Regions from separate parts of the Homo sapiens genome. Here all the other regions are linked to region 2. Evidence: fine-mapped expression QTL. A gene starts in region 2. Each other region holds a variant in brackets. All regions are shown on one strand. Distances are between the middles of the regions.

What was found. PIP is the estimated chance that this variant, and not a neighbour inherited with it, causes the effect.
Region 1: its variant is the best candidate, but not a certain one, in a credible set for the expression of RCC1 in CD4 T cells (BLUEPRINT, PIP 0.52).
Region 3: its variant is the best candidate, but not a certain one, in a credible set for the expression of RCC1 in whole blood (INTERVAL, PIP 0.72).
Region 4: its variant is the best candidate, but not a certain one, in a credible set for the expression of RCC1 in lung (TOPMed, PIP 0.78).

The regions. Positions count from the first base shown.
Region 1 is chr1:28,411,061-28,416,650 of GRCh38, reverse strand. All of the region lies in intron 2 of PHACTR4 (phosphatase and actin regulator 4), which reads right to left. Among named protein-coding and RNA genes, the nearest start is that of PHACTR4, 44 kb to the right of the region's middle. The variant A/G (reference allele first, on the strand shown) is at 2,741.
Region 2 is chr1:28,503,148-28,508,737 of GRCh38, reverse strand. RCC1 (regulator of chromosome condensation 1) reads right to left here and starts at 2,695. Exons shown (of 13, transcript NM_001381865.2): 1 at 2,654-2,695; 2 at 578-610. SNHG3 (small nucleolar RNA host gene 3) reads right to left here and starts at 2,795. Exons shown (of 4, transcript NR_036473.1): 1 at 2,654-2,795; 2 at 2,411-2,518; 3 at 578-610. It overlaps SNORA73A (small nucleolar RNA, H/ACA box 73A), which reads right to left and starts at 1,373; the gene lies at 1,167-1,373. It overlaps SNORA73B (small nucleolar RNA, H/ACA box 73B), which reads right to left and starts at 180; the gene lies at 1-180. RefSeq lists enhancers at 630-1,395, 1,587-1,881.
Region 3 is chr1:28,442,249-28,447,838 of GRCh38, reverse strand. All of the region lies in intron 2 of PHACTR4 (phosphatase and actin regulator 4), which reads right to left. Among named protein-coding and RNA genes, the nearest start is that of SNHG3, 61 kb to the left of the region's middle. The variant C/T (reference allele first, on the strand shown) is at 2,820.
Region 4 is chr1:28,555,806-28,561,308 of GRCh38, reverse strand. TRNAU1AP (tRNA selenocysteine 1 associated protein 1) reads right to left here. Exons shown (of 9, transcript NM_017846.5): 3 at 577-676. Among named protein-coding and RNA genes, the nearest start is that of TRNAU1AP, 5.5 kb to the right of the region's middle. The variant C/T (reference allele first, on the strand shown) is at 2,852.

The DNA.
Region 1 (5,590 bases), 92 kb after region 2:
CCACTTGCTATGATTTTCTAGGAGTAAGACGTAGTCAGAAGTGATAAAAAGTGGTGAGAGGACACAGGCAATAGTCCAGAATGTCAGCATTACTGCCTTTCCAGGCTTCTACTACTACTACTACAGCTCATCTTTTTCTACTGACAGAAAAAATAATTACATAATATCTGTTATTCAGGTTCACAGAATTTGGTGCCTGTGTACTCTGTTTTCCTTAAGATTGGTAATTCTATCTTATGCAGAAAAATTAAAACCACTGGAAGAAACACATACAGATATGTATTGTGTGTTTACTACTGGGCAGTGGGTAGGATGTAACAGTAAAAACATGTTGACCTTTATACCCCTTCAGGAAATAAGATGACAGAGGATATTTAATATATATTTATAATAATGCTATATTAAATTTCTCATCAAGACCACTAGGAGAAAAAATGGAACTAGCATCAATTTTGGCATCATGTAATACTGGAGGAATTTAACTCCTACACCCTGAGGACCTCAAAACTAATTAAGCTTGTATTTTGTCTTTCATTCTTAAAGAGGAGGGAGGGAAGGACTATGTTACTGGCATATTTTGAGCTTCAAGTGATAACAACATAACATCAAAAATGTTTTCCCATGAACTTTGAAGTGCATTATGTCTTGAGTTTGGCTCCTTGGCAAATGTTCTTAAACAGCTAGAAAAAAACTCCTTTATAGCATCATCATAATAATTCATAAATTCAGATACAGAATAAGAAAAAAATAATTGACTTTGTTTAGGAAATAATAAATTCTATTTGCTACCTTAACAAACTACTTCTCCTATTTCCTATATGATACAAATTCTAATCAAAAGGAGGTATTATCTTATAAATTTGTTTCCAGAATGCCATGCATATGAATAAAGCCTTTGCAACTAGCTTTAAATTCAGAATGCAAACTGATAATCTACATCTCATTAAACAATCACCAAACACACCCAAAAAAGTATTTTCAACAAGTCATGTTCATATTTATACAAGAGAGGGTATATAGAAACTTAATGAAGTATTCAGATGATTTAAAACATTTTGGGAAGGCAATTAGTATGCAGATCCTCCTCCACCTCAAAAATCTTTAGAAGGAAGTCACAACTCAGTACTTTTAAATAAGTGATATGCTAGGGTTTCAGTCCCTTTTGTTCTGGTATGCTCTTGGGAGAATGACTGTTAACTCCATAAGCAGTTGAAAAGGGAGGAAGAAAGCAGAAGCACGAATTAGCTATTTTTGAAAGTAGTGGGGTGTGGAGCATCATGGTAGCACAAATTCTATGCACATCCTCTCTGGATCCTTCCTTCACTCAGCACTTATGTACAGTGTAGCCATGAATTTTTTTCTTTCTTTTCTCTCTCTTTTTTTTTTTTTTGAGACAGAGTCTCGCTCTGTTGCCCAGGCTGGCGTGGAGTGGCGTGATCTTGGCTCACTGCAACCTCCGCCTCCCGGGTTCAAGCAATTCTCCTGCCTCAGCCTCCCAAGTAGCTGGGACTACAGTAGCACGCCATCATGCCTGGGTAATTTTTTGTATTTTAGTAGAGGCGGGGTTTCACCTTGTTGCCCAGGCTGGTCTCGAATTCCTGAGCTCAGGCAAACCGTCCACCTCGGCCTCCCAAAGTGCTAGGATTACGGGGGTGAGCCACCGCGCCCAGCCTAATTTTTTCTTTTAACTGGTAGTATACACCAGTATAGGTTAACAAGTAATACATTCATTGTATTTTATCCAGGTCTCTGAAATGAGATGAAAGGGAGGTGACCTAAAATCAGGAGAAGCAAGGTAAAAGCTGTTTGATTCCTCTATCACTTTCCCTACTCCATGATCTTCAATGTCTGTCCTACACTAACTCTGGCGGAATTTTGGAATCTGTTTTCCAAGAAAGTGTAAAGCAAATGGTCTCTGGAAAGGGGTCGCAAAAGGCAACTGATGGTAGGGATATGGTACAAAAAATGGAAGGGGTTGGGTGCAATGGCTCATGCCTGTAATCTCAACTTTTGGGGAGGCCGAGGTGGGAGAATCACTTGAGCCCAGGAGTTCAAGACCAGCCTGGGCAACATAGGGAGACTGCATCTTTACAAAAAGTAAAAAAATTAGTCAGGCATGGTGGTATGTGCCTATAGTCCCAGCTACTTGGGAGGCAGAGGTGGGAGAATTGTTTGAGCTCAGGAGGTCGAGGCTGCGGTGCTTTTTTTTTTTTTTTTTTTTTTGAGACAGAGGAAGACTGACCCCAAAAAATAAAAATAAAAAAATAAAATGAAAAAGAAAATAAGGCCAGCTGCAGAGGCTCATGCCTGTAATCTCAGCACTTTGGTAGGCCGAGGCAGGCGGATCACCTGAGGTCAGGAGTTCGAGACCAGCCTAGCCAACATGGTGAAACCCTAAAACTACAAAAATTAGCCAGGCAGTGATGGGTGCTTGTAATCCCAGTTACTCGGGAGGCTGAGGCCAGGAGAATCATTTGAACCCAGGAGGCAGAGGTTGCAGTAAGCTGAGATGGCGCCACTGCACTCTAGCCTGGGTGACAGAGCAAGACTCCATCTCAAAAGATAAAAATAAAGTAAAATAAAATACAAATACAAGTAAAATTAAAAATGGAAGAGAATTAAGTGAAAATATGCATAATTAATGCTGAATGCAGCAGTCTCTTCAGTCAGTTTTCTTCACCCCTTACCATCCAAACACAGTGGGAAGACTGTGCCCCTTAGACCCTGATACTGATATGAG[A/G]ATGTTCATCAACAATAAGGCCAAGAAGCTCACCCAAAGGCAACCTGCCTATACATTTAAAGCTTCTAACTGGCTATTTAGTCCCTCACTTTTAACCATCAGCAGACAGTTAATTATTACTAGACATCAGAGAAAAACTCTAACATAAAAGAAACCAAATCAATATTTAAAAACAATGTTAGGAAAAAAAGAGACTATGCAGGGCAAGGAAAATCTGTTGAAAGAATGAAAGGATAGTATAAAAAGAAACATGCAGAGACTTCAAAAAGACCTCCTGGAGATTAAACTCTAATAGTAGAAAAGAAAAATTTAATAAAAGTAGAAGATAAAGTTGAATAAATCTTGCAGGAAACATATCTAAAGGAAAAAGAAATGAATTAGATAATTATTCCAGGAGGTTCAACATCAAAAAGCTACTGGCAACCAAGACAGAGGAAGACATGAGGGTTTAGGAAACAAAGGAGCTAACACAGGAAAGAAGCAAAGCTGTCAGGAAAATGGAGACTGGATAACCCAGGATGACAGTTGCGTACCACCTCTACAGACTGCAAGGCCACCTGTACACAGACTGGAGCAATGTGACTCAAGAGATATATTGAAAGCTGTCATCACCAATATCTCTGCTGCTATTTATCCTTTTTAAAGCTAAGAACACAGTACCCAGGTGAGCCTGGCCCTCAGCCTGTCTTGACTAAATGCTTATGGATTTCTTCTTTGAACATACTTGATTGCCTAATGAGTTCCAGACTCATTTCGCTCCACAAAAGTTTCTTTAACCCAGCGGTCCCCAACCTTTTTGGCACCAGGGACCAGGTTCATGGAAGACAATTTTTCTACAGACGGGGGTGTTGGGGTGGTTTGGGATGAAACTGTTCCACCTAATCACTGATCTGACAGGAGGTGGAGCTCAGACTGTAATGCTCACTGGCCCACTGCTCACCTCCTGTGGCCCGGGGGTAGTGGTGCAGGGTACTCCTGCTTAGGAGAAACCACAGAGCTAATCACTCCCTCTGACCATATTTCTGTCAAATGTCCAAGACCTAGTCCACACTGAAACCCTGCCCAATACAATCTCCAGGATTAAATCTTAACTTTACTCATGACTTCCATAGAAGGGCCTCTAGGAACCTCAGGAAAATGAAGCAAGTATAATCTGCTGATCTCTGGGGATCCCTGAGATCCTTTCAGAAGTCCAAGAGGTAAAACTAAATACATAAGAATACAAAAAAATTATTTGCCTTTTCCACTGTGTTGACACTTGCACTGATGGTACAAAAGCAATGGTGAGCAAAACTGTTAGCACCTTAACACAAATCAAGGCAACAGCACCAAACTGTAGCAGAAATCATTGTATTCTTCACAACTACACAGTTACAGTGAAAAATAAATTCAACTTTAAGAATGTCCTTGATAAAGCAATAAAAAATATTAGTTTTAATAAATATCAACCCTTTAGTACATATATTTTTATTACTGTTTATGATGAAACAGAAATATGTATAAAGCACATTTGTATACTAAGTATGATGGTTATCTCCAGGAAAGGCATTTGTGTGACTGAGTTGCAAACTGAACTAGACAGTTTTCTTCATGGAATACTATTTTTACTTGAAAGACTGAACAACAAGCTATGTTATTCAAGCTTAGATAGCTGACAGGCATTTTCTCAAAAGTAAGCCTGTCACTAATAAAGAAAATTAACAGTATTTGTTGCTAGTGATAGAATTCAAGCTTTCAAGTGAAATTCCTATTTTGGAAAATTTACATCCAGAATGAGCTTGACAGCTTCCCAACATTTAACATTTTTTTCAACGAGACCAATAGTGATATTAACGAACATGATATTTAAATATTATATAATGAAATGTGTAAGCATCTGTCCAGGTAGAAAAGGTCCTAGAGACCTTAGGTCTATCCTTCTGGTACTTTATTCGTAAAAATCCCTCACTACTTTTATTTCCAGAATACCACAAATAATTCTTTCTTTCTTTCTCTTTCTTTCTTTCTTTTGTTCATTCGTTCTTTCTTTCTTTTGTTCATTCGTTCTTTCTTTCTTTCTTTTGGGTGGTTTCTGTTTTCTTTTTTTCCTTTTTTATGTCATTTTTTACTTCAATAGGTTTTGGGGAATGGGTAGTATTTGGTTACATGAATACGTTCTTTAGTGGTGATTTCTAAGATTCTGGTGCAACCATCATCCAAGCCGTGTACACTGTACCCAATGTGTAGTCTTTTATCTCTTTTTCAATATTTCTACTTAATTATTAGCTAACTTGATTATAACAAAATTCTCACTCCACCAAAAGAAACAAACTCATTTTACATCCTCAATTCTTTTCTTTGTCAAATGACACTGAGTACACCAAATTCTTATCATATGTATATGTGTGTATATGTATAGTAAACAACTAAGAAAAAAATCATTATAACATTTAGAAGGAAAAATGGAGACAGAGGAGAATGGTAGTTAAATATGAGTCATTTCTGTTTTCCTATAAACTCCATATTATGATTGAATGAATGTTAATTTACAAATTCCAAGATTTAAATAAGTGTTTAGAAAAAAATAATCTCAGGCCGGGCTCACACCTGTAATCCAAACACTTTCGGAGGCCGAGGCAGGTGGATCATCTGAGGTCAGGAGTTCAAGACCAGCCTGGCCAATATGGCGAAATCCCGTCTCTATTAAAAATACAAAAATTAGTTGGGTGTGGTGGCAGGTGCCTGTAGTCCCAGCTACTTGGGAGGCTGAGGCAGGAGAATTGCTTGAACCCAGGAGGCGGAGGTTGCAGTGAGCCGAGATCACACCATTGTACTCCAGCCTGGGTGACAGAGCAAGACTCCACCTCAAAA
Region 2 (5,590 bases):
CCCAGTCATTGTCCACAGGACTCTGGGAAGCTGTAGGAATATGCAGGCGCAGACACGAGGCCCAGCTTCATCTTCAACGTTGTGGAAAGGGACTGTACATCATGGGGCAGAGCCCTAAGCTCCCCTATGCCACTTGGACAGAGCCTGGGGAGAGTGACCTCCCAGGGTATCCACGTTGGAATGCTCATTAGTGAGGAATTGGAGTAACCGACAAATCCAATATTGCTAATCACCCACAGTATTTTCAAGGGCTAGTATCTTTCTCAGCTCAGGCTACACATGTAGATAAAGCCAATTAGGCTTCCTACAGTTCACTAGGGCAGCTTTTACTACTTTGCACTTTTAATGAGCTGACTAAAAAAAGCAATTTTTACAGAACAGAGCATATGTTGAAGTTATGTCAACATGCCTACAAAAATGCAGCAAAGTCGATATTTGGCTATTGCTCTGAGAATGATTAAATGCCTCAGAGGTAAATCCTGACCAACTAGAATAAAAGTCTCTTCAATCCTATTTCCATTACAGAAATCATTGACAAAGAGCTGATAAGCAAAAAACAATTAGCAGATTTACTCACCAAATAAGAGTTACTTGGAATCCTTAACAAATCCTGCAAAACAAGATATTAATCTATTAGTACAGCAAAACCCTAAACTTTTTCAACGAGGGGCCTCATGCTATCGCCTGGGGTTGGAGTACAGTGGCACTGGAGTATAGGTTTGAGTATAGGTCACTCCTGGGCTCCAGCGATTCTCCTTCCTCCAGCTACCTATCATCATGCCTGGCTACTTTTTAGCCAATTTTTCTTAAACATGTATTAAGACTTCAATCCAGCCAGGTGTGGTGGCTCACGCCTGTAATCCCAACATTTTGGGAGGCCAGAGGCTGGCGGATCACAAGGTCAGGAGTTTGAGACCAGCCTGACCAACATGGTGAAACCCTGTCTTTACTAAAAATACAAAAATTAGCCTGGCGTGGTGGCGGGGGCCTGTAATCCCAGCTACTCAGGAGGCCAAGGCAGGAGAATCACTTAGCATAATCACTTGAACCCGGGAGGCAGAGGCAATGGAGTGCGCCACTGCACTCCAGCCTGGGCAACAGAGCGACTCCATCTCCAAAAAAAAAAAAAAAAAAAAAGACTTCAATCCAGATTCAGTGCTCTAGAAGGCTGTTTCCTGCATGGTTTGTCTCCCCAGTAATTGTCGACAGGACTCTGGGAAGCTGTAGGAATATGCAGGCGCAGACACGAGGCCCAGCTTTATTTCCAACGTTGTGGAAAGGGACTTGTACATCATGGGGCAGAGCCCTATGCTCCCCTACGCCACTTGGACAGAGCCCGGGGAGAGTGACCTCCCGGGTGTATCCACGTTGGACAATCAGTGTAACGCATAAATTTACAGAATCCAATAGGAAACAATTTCATCCATTCATGTTACTACAGATCTTAAACAAGAAAGCAAACGAGTTTCCACCCTGTCCACAGTGGGGTGTTAAAAAAAAATCGGTTTCTAGACTGGTAACATGCATATTCAGCTATTCTAATTACTTTACAATAGGCGGTTAGTACTATGTGGAAGGTACCGCAGAAGCAAAGACAACAATTAGGCCCAGCTATCCTAAATTCAAATGAAACACGTGGACTTGTTAATTACCCCCAAATCGGCCAGGCACGATGGCTCACGCCTGTAATCCTAAAAATATAAAAATAAAAATGACCCAAATCACAAAAATACGAGAAAGCATAATTACGAAACGCAATGCTTCCAAATTATGAAAATCTTCGGCCTGGCGTGGCGGACCACAAGGTCAGGCGTTGGAGACCAGCCTGGCCAACATGGTGAAATCCCGTCTCTACTAAAAATACAAAAATAAGCCAGGCGCGGTGGTACACGCCTGTAGTCCCAGCTACTCGGGAGGCTGCGGCAGGAGAATTGCTTGAGCCCAGCAGGCGGAGGTTGCAGTGGTGCGATCAAATAAAAAGAAAAATTGAGAAAATTCTTAAAGGCAAATGAGGATCCAGAATAAAACTGTGTGCAATTATATTGAGAACGACAATGTGCCTACTATGAGGCAGTAAGATAAACAGTGGGGGTGGCGGTGCACCTTCAGAGGCTCGCTGGGTCGGGCGGCAGCCCTGCGGGTCCCGAGGTCTCCATGGCCCACTTCTGGCCCAGGCCCGTCTAACGCGTACTTTAGAGTTGGGACCGATGCCGCCTAAGACACCCATATATAGTTTTAAATTACATGATTTCCGGCCAGGCGCGGTGGCTCACGCCTGTAATCCCAGCACTTTGGAAGGCCGAGGGTGGTGGATCACCGGAAATCAGGAGTTCAAAACCAGCCTGACCAACATAGCGAAACCCCGTCTCCACTAAGAATACAAAAATTGGCCGGGCGTGGTGGCACGTGCCTGTAATCCCAGCTGCTGGAGAGGCTGAGGCACGAGAATCGCTTGAACCCGGCAGGCGGAGGTTGCAACGAGCACTGCAGTCCAGCCTGAGTGACAAACCGACTCCGTCTCAAAAAAAAAAAAAAAGTAAATAAATAAAATACTATATGATCTTCCTAGGGAAGCTCGGCTACTGATCTATAGCATTAGACCCACAACTCCGGTGGCAAGCATCTGATCACACTTACCAAGGATCACACTTACCAAGGAGAAGAAGCGACCACTGCGAATCTGTCTCCAAAAAGGAGAGAGAAAACGCGAAGCATCCTTTTTAAACCTTACGAAGTGCCCGGAAGTCCTGGAATGTCTATTGCGCGTGCGCAGAAGCATGCGCAGTTAGAGAATCAGAAACTCACTGAGGCTTCTGGGAATCTACTGCAGATTGAGCCCCACCCCTTCCTGGCTGGGAGGCCTCTCGCGGTAGTGGATCCTTCCCGCGGGACCTTGCTGGGGAATGTACGTTACAGAAATAGGTTTGTAGGTATGTAGCTGCAGAGGACGTTTACTTCTGTGCAATCACTGGACTCAGTCTGTAGGATATGCCCTTAGATAAACTGGCCAAAAAGTTTTTGGAAGAGTCGAACGCGGTGGCTCACGCCTGTGATTACAGCAGCTCTGAAGGCCGTGAGGGGCGGATCGCTTGAGGCCAGGAGTTCGAGACCGGCCTGGGCATCATGGCGAAACCCCGTCTCTACAAAAAATACAGAACATAAGCCAGGCATGGTGCCGCGCACCTCCAGTCCCAGCTACTCGGGAGGCTGAAGCATGAGAATCGTTTGAACCTGGGAGGCGGTGGTTGCAGTGAGCCGAGATCGCGCCGATGCACTCCATCCTGGTCGACAGAGCGAAACTCTCTCTCCAAATAAATAAGTAAAACGTTGGAATAATAAGAATGCAGAATGAAAAAAATACATATAGAGAAATACGGAGTATCAAAAGGAATTGAATCTGCTCTGTCACCTGTGAAAGAAATAATTTGATAAATGTGAAGGTAAATAAGATGAAAGTGCCCCTAGACGAATCAGATAAAAGTTTAAAAACTCCAGGCCTGGCCCGGATAAAAATAAATAAAAATAAAAAATAAAAAACTCCATTGCACAACAGTGTGAATGAATGTAATTAAAAGCACTGCCCTATACTCTTTCTTTTTTTTTCGAGATGGAGTTTTGCTCTGTCACCCAGGCTAGAGTGGAATGGCGCGGTCTCGGCTCACTGCAACCCCGGCCTCCCGGGTTCAAGCGATTCTCCTGCCTCGGCCTCCCCAGTAGCTGGGATTACAGGCGCCCGCCACCGTGCCTGGCTAATTTTTGTATTTTTAGCAAGACGGGGTTTCACCATCTTGGCCAGGCTGGTCTCGAACTCCTGACCTCAAGCAATCCACCCGCCTCGGCCTCCAAAGTGCTGAGATTACAGGCATGAGCCAGCGCACCTGGACTTTTTTTTTTTTTTTTTTTTTGAGACGGAGTCTCGCTCTGTCGCCCAGGCTGGAAGGAAGTGGTGTGATCTCGGCTCACTGCAACCTCCACCTCCCAGGTTCAACCAGTTCTCCTGCCTCAGCCTCCCGAGTAGCTGGGACTATAGGCATGCCACCATGCCCGGCTAATTTTTGTATTTTTAGTAGAGACCGGGTTTCACCATGTTGGCCAGGCTGCTCTCGAACTCCTCACCTCAAGTGATGCCCGCCTTGGCCTCCCAAAGTACTGGGATTACAGGCCTGAGCCACCACACCTGGCCCCCTATACATTTTAAACTAGTTAAAAATGGCAAGTTTTATGTATATTTTACCACACACAAAACCCTCTGAATATGAAGTAGGCAAGTAAAGAATGCTTACGATATATATACATAAGAAATGTTGCAAATATGATGGAATTTTTAGTGTGGTGTAAGGTGGAAAAACGTTGGCTAGAGAGACAGAGCTATCACAGCTGGGCTATCTTGAGTAGTAACGTTTATGGTGTTCCTCCTACATATTAGATTTTGTTCTGAATGCTTTATTACGTACATTATTTACTATCGCAGCAATTCTTTTTTTTTTTTTTTTTGAGATGGAGTCTTGCTCTGTTGCCCAGGCTGGAGTGCAGTGGCTCGATCTTGGCTCACTGCATTCTCTGCCTCCTGGGTTCAAGCAATTCTCCTGCCTCAGCCTCCCGAGTAGCTGGGACTGCAAGCAAGTGTCACCATGCCCCACCAATTTTTGTATTTTCAGTAGAGACGGGGTTTCACCATATTGGCCAGGGTGGTCTTGAACTCCTGACCACGTGATCTGCCCGCCTTGACCTCCCAAAGTGCTGGGATTACAGGCATGAGCCACCGTGCCCGGCCTACAAATTTTTTTTTTTTTTTAGATGAAGTCTCACTCTGTCCCCCAGGCTGGAGTGTAGTGGTGCGATCTCGGCTCACTGCAACCTCCGCCTCTCAGGTTCAAGCAATTCTCCTGCCTCAGCCTCCTGAGTAGCTGGGATTACAGGCGCCCGCCACCATGCCCAGCTAATTTTTGTATTTTTAGTAGAGACGGGTTTTCAGCATGTTGGTCAGGCTGGTCTTGAACCCCTGACCTCATGATCCACCTGCCTCGGCCTCCCAAAGTGCTGGGATTACAGGCTTGAGCCACTGCGCCCGACCCCGGCCTACAAAATTTTAAAAAAAATGTTAGCTGAGTGTAGTGGCACATTCCTGTAATCCTAGCTACTTATGAGGTGTGAGGATCACCTGAGCCCAGGAGATGGAGGCTGCAGTGAGTCGTGATCATGCCACTGCACTCCAGCCTGGGCAACAGAGCAAGAACCTATCTCAAAAAAAAAAAAAAAAAAAAAAAAAAAAGACATTTCTGATGTAGGGTTTGTCGTCCCACTGGAATTGCAAGGTAAGAGAAGAACTTGAGGATACCAGAGTTTCAGGCTTAGGAGGCTGAACATACTATGGTCTCTAACCTTGATAAGTGGAAATGCAGGCAGTGGGGGAGGAGTAATGTCCACATTGGAGTATATACGAGTTACCTGAGTAACATCTGGTTGTATATAAGTCCAAAGAGCAATTAGATATATGGGGTTGGGCTTCCTGTAAGAAATCTGAGTTGGTGATAAAATATTTAGAAGTTGTAAGAATTAGCATGGTGGCTAAAGTCGTCTTGGAAGAATG
Region 3 (5,590 bases), 61 kb after region 2:
AAAGCCGTCAGGAGAAGATAGTCAGGTGGAAGGTCTCTCTCTGAACTTGCAGGTACAGTTATGTCTGAGATTCTACCTCTGGAAAAATAGTTTTCTGCCTATGATTGTATCAAGAAGTGAAGTTGCTTTACCACTGGCAACTTAATGTGCACACTGTTCTGACAAAAAATTCCAGGTTAAGGGTATGTTTTTATAGTGAAGGGCCAGAATATAAGCTATTCACTCATGGAAAAAAAACTTCAAACTTTCCAAAGTTTACTTGCAAGTAGAAAGACGAAATACATAGCCAGGCATGGTGGTGGGCACCTGTAATGCCAGCTACTTGGGAGGCTGAGGCAGGAGAATCACCTGAATCCAGGAGGCAGAGGTTGTAGTAAGTCGAGATCGTGCCACTGCACTCCAGCCTGGGCGACAGAGTGAGACTGTCTCAAAAAAAAAAAAAAGAAAAAAGAAAGAGGAAATACATATGTAGGTTGTGATAATAGGTCTATTAGTCCATTCTTGCATTGCTATAAAGAATTACCTGAGGCCAGGTACAGTGGCTCACACCTGTAATCCCAGCACTTTGGGAGGCCAAGGCAGGAGGATCACCTGAGGTCAGGAGTTCAAGACCAGCCTGGCCAATACGGCGAAACCCCGTCTCTACTAAAAATACAAAAAGTAGCCAGGCTTGGTGGCACGCGCCTGTAGTCCCAGCTACTCAGGAGGCCAAGGCAGGAGAATTACTTTGAACCCAGGAGGTAGAGGTTGCAGTGAGCTGAGATCGCACCACTGGACTCCAGCCTGGGCAACAAAGTGAGACTCTATCTAAATAAATAAATAAATAAATAAATAAAAAGAAATACCTGAGACTGGGTAATTTATAAAGAAAAGAGGCTTAATTGGCTCATGTTTCTGCAGTCTGTATAGGAAGAATGATGCTAGTATCTGCCTGGCTTCGGGGGAAGCTGCAGGAACTTACAATCATGGTGGAAGATGAAGGGGGAGTAGACACGTCACATGGCCCAGAACAGGAGCAAGAGAGCAAGGGGGCAGGTGCCACACACTTTTCTTTTTTTTTGAGATGGAGCCTCACTCTGTTGCCCAGGCTGGAGTACAGTGGCGCAATCCTGGCTCACGACAACCTCCGCCTCCAGGGTTCAAGGGATTCTCCTGCCTCAGCCTCCTGAATAGCTGGGACTACAGGCACACGCCACCATGCCCGGCTAATTTTTGTAGTTTTAGTAAAGACAGGGTTTCACCATGTTGGCCAGGCTGGTCTTGAACTCCCGACCTCATGATCCACCTGCCTCGGCCTCCCAAAGTGCTGGGATTACAGGCATGAGCCACTGCACCCAGCCTCCACACACTTTTAAATGACCAGATCTCATGAGAACTTACTATCTTGAGGACAGTACTAAGTGGATGGTGTTAAACCATTCGTGAGAAATCCACCCCAATCACCTCCCACCAGGTCCCACTTCCAACACTGGGGATTACAATTTAACATGGGATCTGGTTGGGGACCTAGATCCAAACCTTATTAATGGCCTATTTAGAAAATCCACTGGAGCAGAGAGAGGGATCAATAAGTTTTGGTTGGTAGTCCAAATTTGATAACAGAGAATCTTTTAAGGAGTTTATGACAGACCCCTATATTGCCACCTCCTCCTGAACACTGGATTACATGAGGAAAGTATGCCTGTTTCTCCTTTTTTAAAAGAAAGCATTTACTGTTAGATAAACAGCAGACAGGTATGAGAAATGTCTTTATAATTCTGATAACCAAATACTACTAAGCCTTTTTCTCCAAAATCTCATGAAGTACTTTATTTTAAATTAACCTATTATTTACTCCAGTTTTATTGTTGTTATGTAGCTATGTTAAATTTTATTCATCCTGCAATCTCCTTAGGATTTTGCCTCTAAGTGATAATATATTTCTTTTCCTTTCTTTTTTGTTTTTCAAACACAGTCTCGCTCTGTTAGCCAGGCTGCAGTGCAGTGACATGATCATGGCTCACTGCAGCCTCAACCTCCTGGGCTCAAGTGATCCTCCCATCTCAGCCTCCTGAACAGCTGGGACTGCAGGTGTGCACCACCACACCTGACTAATTGTTACATTTTTTTTGTAGAGATGGGGGATGATATATTTCCAAATCACGTTCCCCAAAACTGCTTCCAGTATCATAAGGGTGAGAACCCCATAACTCCAAGTTTCAGAGAAAATAAATCAAATGGTTATGGAAAAGGAATGTAGGAAAGAGAACATACAGTATCTTTTATAGCAATATATTATTATGCAAAAGAAAAGTGGGGGGAAAAGTTAATTAGTGAATTAGGGTAAATGAAGGGGCAAAAAGGAAAAAAAAAGAGAGGTAAAATGGAAAGACAGAGAAGGAAAGTTCCAAGCCAAATGGTTGGAGAGAATTTATTAAAAATCTTTGGTCCTTCTAATTAGAATTAGGAAGGGCTGGGTGCAGTGACTTATGTTTGTAATCCTAGCACTTTGGGAGGCCAAAGTGGGAGGATCGCATGAGCCCAGGAGTTCAAGACCAGCCTGGGCAACATAGCGAGACTCTGTCTTAAAAAAGAATAATTAAATATGGCCAGGTGAGGTGGCTCACGCCTGTAATCCCAGCACTTTGGGGGGCTGAGGCAGGTGGATCATGAGGTCAGGAGTTCAGGACCAGCCTGGCCAAGATGGTGAAACCCCGTCTCTACCTAAAATACAAAAATTAGTCGGGCATGCTGGCAGGCGCCTGTAATCCCAGCTACTCAGGAGGCTGAGGCAGAGAATTGCTTGAACCCGAGAGGTGGAGGTTGCAGTGAGCTGAAAT[C/T]GTGCCACTGCACTCCGCCTGGGCAACAGAGAAAGACTCTGCCTCAAAAAAATAAAATAAATAAATAAATAGTTAAATAATATAAAAATGGGAGGCTGGGCGCAGTGGCTCACACCTGTAATCCCAGCACTTTGGGATGCCGAGGCAAGTGGATCACGAGGTCAGGAGATCGAGACCATCCTGGCTAACACGGTGAAACCCCGTCTCTACTAAAAATACAAAAAAAAAAAAAAAAAATTAGCTGGGTGCGGTGGCAGGCGCCTGTAGTCCTAGCTACTTGGGAGGCTGAGGCAGGAGAATGGCGTGAACCCGGGAGGTGGAGCTTGCAGTGAGCCGAGATCGCGCCACTGCACTCCAGCCTGGCCAACACAGCGAGACTCTGTCTCAAAAAATAATAATAATAAAAATAAAAAAATAAATAATATAAAAATGGGAAAGACCAAATGATCTGAAGAGACATTTCTCAAAAGAAGACATAAAAATGCCCAAATAGGCCAAGGGCTGTGGCTTATGCCTGTAGTCCCAGTACTTTGGGAGGCTGAAGTGGGCGGATCACAAGGTCAGGAGATCAAGACCATCCTGGCCAACATGGTGAAACCCTGTCTGTATTAAAAATACAAAAATTAGCTGGTCATGGTGGCACGTGCCTGTAATCCCAGCTACTCGGGAGGCTGGGGCAGGAGAACAGCCTGAACCAGGGAGTCGGAGGTTGCAGTGAGCCAAGACTGCTCACGCCACTGCATTCCAGCCTGGCGACAGAGCAAGACTCTGTCTCAAAAAAAAAAAAAAAAAAAAAAAAAAAAAAGCCAAATATATTTTTTTAAATGCTCAACATAACAAATCATCAGGTGAATGCAAATCAAAACCACAATGAGGTATCATCTCACCCCAGTTAGGAGGCTATTATCAAAAAGACAAAAAGTAGCCAGTGCTGGTGAGGGTACAGAGTAAAGGGAACACTATACACTGTCGGTGGGAATGTAAACTAGTATAGCCACTATGGGGAACAGTATGGAGGGTCCTCAAAAGAAAGAAAAACTACAAATAGCGCTACCATATGATCCAGCAATACCATTACTGGGAATATATCCAAAGGAAAGGAAATCATTATACTGAAGAGATATCTGCACTTCCATGTTTACTGTAGTACTACTCAACAACAGCCAAGATATGGAATCAACCTAGGTGTTCAACAACAGATGAATGGATAAAGAAAATGTGGTATATATACAAAATGGAATACTATTTAGCCATAAAAAAGAATGAGCCAGGTGTACTAGCTCACAACTGTAATCCCAGCACTTTGGAAGGCTGAGGCAGGAAGATCACTTGAGTCCAGGTCCAGGAGTTTGAGACCAGCCAGGGAAAGAGAGTGAGACCTCGTTTCGTCAAAAAATAAAAAAAACTAGCCAGGTGTGGTGGCATGTGCCTGTAGTCCCAGCTACTTAGGAGGCTGAGGGGGGAGGATCGCTTGAATCTAGGAGGCTGAAGCTGCAGTGAGCTATGATTGTGTCACTGTACTCCAGCCTGGGTGACAGAGTGGGATTCTGTCTCAAGAAAAAAAAAAAGAATTAGCTGGGTATGACAGTGTGCACCCGTAGTCCCAGCTACTCGGGAGGCTGAGGCAGGAGAATTGCTTGAACCTGGGAGGTGGAGGTTGCAGTGAGCCGAGATCGCGCCACTGCACTCCAGCCTCGGTGACAGAGTTGAGACGAAAGAACGAAAGAAAGAAAGAAGAGAGAGAGAGAAAGAAAGACAATGAAATCCTGTCATTCTCAGCAACATGGATGGAACTAAGGACATTATTTTAAGTTAAATAAGCTAGGAACAGGAAGTTTAACACCACATGTTCTCACTCATACATAGAAGCTAAAAAAAAGTTGATCTCATAGGAGTAAAAAGTACAACAGAGGCTACTAGAGGCTGGGAGAGATAATGGGAAGGGATGGGTAGGGAAAGATTTGTTAAAGAATACAAAATTACAGCTAGATAAGAGGAAAAAGTTCTAGTGTTCTATGCCACTGCAGAATGACTATAGTTAATAATATGTAGTTTCAAATAGCTGAGGAGGATTTCAACCTTCCCAATATAAATAAATACATGTTGGAGATGATGAATATGCTAATTACCCTAATCTAATCACATCATACATATGGAAATATCCATTATGTAGCCCATGAACAGGTACAATTATTTTCAATTAAAAAAAAAATTTGCCAGGCACAGTGGCTCACACTTGTAATCCCAGCACTTTGGGAAGCCAAGGCAGGCGGATCACTTGAGGTCAGGAGTTTGAAAGCAACCTGGCCAACATGGCGAAACCCCGTCTCTACAAAAATACAAAAATTAGCCAGGCTTAGTGGTGGGCACCTGTAGTCCCAGCTACTCGGGAGGATGAGACAGGAGAATCACTTGAACCTGGAAAGCAGAAGTTGCAGTGAGTCGAAATCACGCCACTGCACTCCAACTTGGGTGACAGAGTGAGACTTCATCTCAAAAAAAAGTAAATAAATAAATACACAAACAAACAAACAAAAACTTTTTTTTCTTTTTTTTTGAGACAGAGTCTCACTCTGTCGCCAGGCTGGAGTGCAGTGGCACGATCTCGGCTCACTGCATCCTCCGCCTCCTTGTTTCAAGCGATTCTCCTGTCTCAGCCTCCTGAGTAGCTGGGACTACAGGCACGCGCCACCATGCTCAGCTAATTTTTGTATTTTTAGTAGAGACAGGGTTTCACCATGTTGGCCAGGGTTGTCTCATCTCCTGACCTC
Region 4 (5,503 bases), 53 kb before region 2:
GGTGTTTCAAGAGTTGAACAATATTTGAAGAAAACTGAAATAAATTACCTTGGCCAAAACATCTCCCCCTCTCTAAGCCTCAGCTTTTTCTCCTGTATAAAATGAGGGGGTTGCACGGATGACCGCTAAGGGCACTGCCAGCTCCATGGTTCTATGAGCCCAGGTGTGCCAGCTGGTGCAGCTGTAAGCTAAGTAACTGTGGGAAGAGCAGAATGCAACTCTCTTGAAATGTGTCCTTGCTGCTGCCAGCCTATTCTAGTTTCCCAATCAGGCAAGAGGTCTAGAGTTTCAAGTCTTCGGTTATGGGAGGCAGCAATGCAGAATGGAAAGGCATGGATTTGGGAGGCAACCAATCTTCAGTCTGAATCCTGGCTCTGCCATTTACTACCTGTGTTGCCTTGGACAAGTTATTTCAATTCCCTGAGCTTCAGTTTCCTGGGCCTACAAAGATAACAATGCCTACTGTAAAGGGTTGTTTTAGGATTAAATAAAATAAGTATACAGTAGGGATTCAATAGATGGTAGTAAGCAATGACAATAATAATGGCAACATCATCATTATCTAAATGTCCTTACAGGTGTGGCTCCTGGAAGGGGTTTCCCATTAATTTTATGCAAACACTTCTCAGCTGTGGCCAAATCTGCAAATTCTACAAAGCAGTAGCCAGCTGGGATCCTGGAAAAAAAGCAAATAGAGAAAGAAAATGGTTAAAGATAAAATGGCTCAAGATGAGGCCAGGCGTGATGGCTCACGCATATAATCCCAACAGTTTGGGAGGCCAAGGCAGGTGGATCACTGAAGGTCAGGAGACCAGCCTGGACAACATGCTGAAACACCATCTCTACTAAAAATACAAAAATTGGCTGGGCATGGCGGCGCACACCTGTAGTCCCAGCTTACTCGGGAGACTGAGGGGGAGAATTGCTGTAACCCAGGAGGTGGAGGTTGCAGTGAGCTGAGATCATGCCACACTGCTCCAGCCTGAGCAACAGGCTGGTTTGAGACTGTTTTAAAAAAAAAAAAAAAAAGGCTCAAGATGGGTCTTGGCCTTGAAGGGAGAAAGAAATGTTTTTCTAATCTGAGCCAACACTGTTTTTGTTCCCTGCCATACCCCAGCTCAGACCTAATTTACAAGCCTGAATATAAGGATTGTCCATCTGGGCCAGTCCAAGATTCGTTTATCTGTATTTATTTATTTATTTATGAGACGGATATCATCTCGATCTCAGCTCACTATAACCTCTGCCTCTCAGGTTCAAGCAATTATCCTGCCTCAGCCTCATGAACACTTGGAATTACAGGTACCCACCACCATGCCTGGCTAATTTTTGTATTTTTAGTAGAGATGGGATTTTGCCATGTTGGCCAGGCTGATCTTGAACTCCTGACCTCAGGAGATCCACCCACTTCGGCCTCCCAAAGTTCCGGGATTACAGGCATGAGCCAAGGCACCTGGCCCCAGACTCATTTAGTAAACATTCATTTATGCATTTTATCATGTGTGAATACTCTTGTCAAAATTGTATTATGCAATCCCATCAAGACTTTAGATCTAATAACCAGTTCCAGGAAATTTTAGAGATAGACTATGCAAAACACCACAAGTAAACAAATGAATGCAGAATGTATGATCTGTTTTTTTTTTCTGAGACCGAGTTTTGCTCTTGTTGCCCAGGCTGGAGTGCAATGACGCAATCTTGGCTCACTGCAACCTCCACCTCCTGGGTTCAAGCGATTCTCCTGCCTCCACCTCCCAGATTCAAGCGATTCTCCTGCCTCAGCCTCCCAAGTAGCTGGAATTACAGGCATGCGCCACCATGCCCAGCTAATTTTGTATTTTCAGTAGAGATGGGGTTTCTCCATATTGGTCAGGCTGGTCTTGAACTCCCGACCTCAGGTGATCTGCCCGCCTCGGCCTCTCAAAGTGCTAGGATTACAGGCATGAGCTACCGCACCCAGCCTCAGAATATAGGCTCTTATAAAGACAACTAGTCTTACCTCCTTAAAAAGTTAAATAGTATGAGGAAAAAAAGAGGTTGGCTTTTATACATTAAAAGAGACTCAAAAAATTAGCCAGGCATGGTGGTAGGCGCCTGTAGTTCCAGCTACTCGGCAGGCTGAGGCAGGAGAATTGCTTGAACCCGGGAGGCAGAGGCTGCAGTGAGCCGAGATCGCGCCACTGCACTCCAGCCTGGGCGACAGAACAAGACTCTGTCTCAAAAAAATAAAAAATAAATAAAAATAAAAGAGACTCAGAAGAACCAAATGCAATGCAGGTTCCTGGATTGAATTATAATTCACTAATAAATGAAAAACTATCAATATTGTGGGGACAATTATAAAAATTTAAATGTAGACCTGCTATGATATGGTATTAGAGAATCACTGATAATTTTGTTAGTGTGATATAAGCATTGTGGTTATGTAAGAAAACGTCCAGTTTCGCCAGGCGCGGTGGCTCACGCCTGTAATCCCAGCACTTTGGGAGGCCGAGGCGGGCGGATCACGAGGTCAGGAGACTGAGACCATACTGGCTAACACAGTGAAACCCCATCTCTACTAAAAATGCAAAAAAATTAGCCAGGCGTGGTGGCGGGCACCTATAGTCCCAGCTACTAGGGAGGCTGAGGCAGGAGAATGGCGTGAACCCAGGAGGCAGAGCTTGCAGTGAGCAGACATCACGCCACTGCACTCCAGCCTGGGCGACAGAATGAGACTCCGTCTCAAAAAAAAAAAAAAAAAAAAAATTAGTCGGGCGTAGTGGTGTGTGCCTGTAGTCCCAGCTACTCGGGAGCCTGAGGCAGGAAAATTGCCTGAACGCGGGAGGCGGAAGTTGCAGTGAGCTGAGAT[C/T]GCATCAATGCACTCCAGCCTGGATGACACGGTGAGACTGGGTCTCAAAAACAAACAAAAAAAAAATATACGAAAATTAGCTGGGTGGGGTGGTGTGTGCCTGTAATCCCAGCTACTCGGGAGGCTGAGGCACAAGAATTGCTTGAACCCGGAGGGAGAGGTTGCAGTGAGCCAACATCACGCCACTGCACTCCAGCCTGGCAACACAGCCAGACTCCATCTCAAAAAAAAAAAAAAAAAAATACAAAAATTAGCAGGGCGGGCTGGGCACAGTGGCTCACGCCTGTAATTCCAACACGTTGGGAGGCCAAGGCGGGTGGATCAGGAGGTCAGGAGTTCTGACCAACATGGTGAAACCCTGTCTCTACTAAACAAAAAAAAAAAAAAAAAAAAAATTAGCCAGGCATAGTGGCACATGACTGTAATCCCAGCTACTCAGGAGGCTGAGGCAGGAGAACTGCTTGAATTTGGGAGGTGGAGGTTGCAGTGAGTCGAGATCATTCCACTGCACTCCAGCCTGGGCGACAGAGACTCTGCCTCAAACCAAAAAAAAAAAAATTAGCTGGGTGTTGGCCGGGAGCGGTGGCTCACGCCTGTAATCCCAGAACTTTGGGAGGCCAAGGTGGGTGGATCACGAGGTCAAGAGATCGAGACTATCCTGGCCAACATGGTGAAAACCTGTCTGTAATAAGAATACAAAAATTAGCTGGGCATGGTGGTATGTGCCAGTAGTCCTAGCTACTCGGGAGGCTGAGGCAGGAGAATGGCTTGAACCCGAGAGGTGCAGATTGCAGTGAGCTAAGATTGCGCCACTGCACTCCTGCTTGGTGACAGAGCAAGACTCTGTCTCAAAAGAAAACAAAACAAAACAAAACACCAAGATTATAGAAAAGGAGAAAAGATAAGACCCAAGGAAAAATAATATGTAATATAGTCTGGGTGACAAGAGCGAAACTCTGCCTCAAAGTAAAAAAAAAAAAAAAAAAAAGAAACATGTAAGAAACAAGAGTTCCATATCTTATTTCTTTTCTTTTTTTTGAGACAGAGTCTCACTTTGTCGCCCAGGCTGGAGTGCAGTGGTGTGATCTCCGCTCGCTGCAAGCTCCACCTCCCGGGTTCACGCCATTCTCCTGCCTCAGCCTCCCGAGTAGCTGGGACTACAGGCGCCCGCCACCATGCCTGGCTAATTTTCTTGTATTTTTAGTAGAGACGGGGTTTCACTGTGTTAGCCAGGATGGTCTCGATCTCCTGACCTCGTGATCCGCCTGCCTCGGCCTCCCAAAGTGCTGGGATTACAGGTGTGAGCCACTGTGCCTGGCCCATATCTTATTTCAATAAACAGTAAGGTTGGTCCCAGTGGCTCATGCCTGTAATCCAGCACTTTGGGAGGCTGAGGCGGACAGATCACCTGAGGTCAGGAGTTCGAGGCTAGCCTGGCCAACACAGTGAAATCCCATCTATACTAAAAATAGAAAAAATTAGGCCGGGCGCAGTGGCTCACGCCTGTAATCCCAGCACTTTGGGAGGCTGAGGCAGGCAGAGGTCAGAAGATTGAGACCATCCTGGCTAACACAGTGAAATCCCATCTCTACTAAAAATACAGAAAATTAGCTGGATGTGGTGGCACACGGCTGTAGTCCCACCTACTCAGGAAGCTGAGGCAGGAGAATCGCTTGAACCTGGGAGGCAGAGGTTGCAGTGAGCTGAGATCGCACCACTGCACTCCTGCCTGGGTGACAGAGCGAGACTCCGTCTCAAAAAACAAACAAACAAAAAAAATGAGCTGGGCGTGGTGGCAGGTGCTTGTAATCCCAGCTACTCAGGAGTCTGAGAGAGGAGAAGGGCTTAAACCCAGGAGGCGGAGGTTGCAGTGAGCCAAGATGGTGCCATTGCACTTCAGCCTGGGCAACAGAGGGAGACTATGCCTCAGAAAAAAAAAAAAAAAAAAGATTAAAATGTGAGAATCTATGCCAGTGTTTTACTTATTTATTTTTGCAACAAAGTTTCCCTCTGTCACCCAGGCTGGAGCACAGTGGCACAATCTCGGCTCACTGCAACCTCTACCTCCTGGGTTCAAACGATTCTCCTTCCTCAGCCTCTCAAGTAGTTGGAATTACAGGTGTGTCTCACCACACCTGGCTAATTTTTGTATTTTTTTAGTAGAGACAAGGTTTCACCATGTTGTCCAGGCTGTTCTCAAATTCCTGACCTCAAGTGATCTGCCCACCTCAGCCTCCCAAAGTGCTGGGATTACAAGTGTGAGCTACCGTGCCCAGCCTATGCCAGTGTTTTAAAAAGTAGAAAGGGGCCGGGCGCGGTGGCTCACACCTGTAATCCCAGCACTTTGGGAGGCCAAGGCAGGCGGATCACGAGGTCATGAGATTGAGACCATCTGGCTAACATGGTGAAACCCCATCTCTACTAAAAATACAAAAAATTAGCCTGGCGTGGTGGCGGGCGCCTGTAGTCCCAGCTACTTGGGAGGCTGAGGCAGGAGAATGGCTTGAACCCAGGAGGTGGAGCTTGCAGTGAGCCGAGATCGTGCCACTGCACACCAGCCTGGGCCACAGAGCAAGACTCCGTCTCAAAAAAAAAAAAAAGAAAAAAAAATGAGAAAGGTTACAGAATGAATTTTCATACCAGTAGCTGATT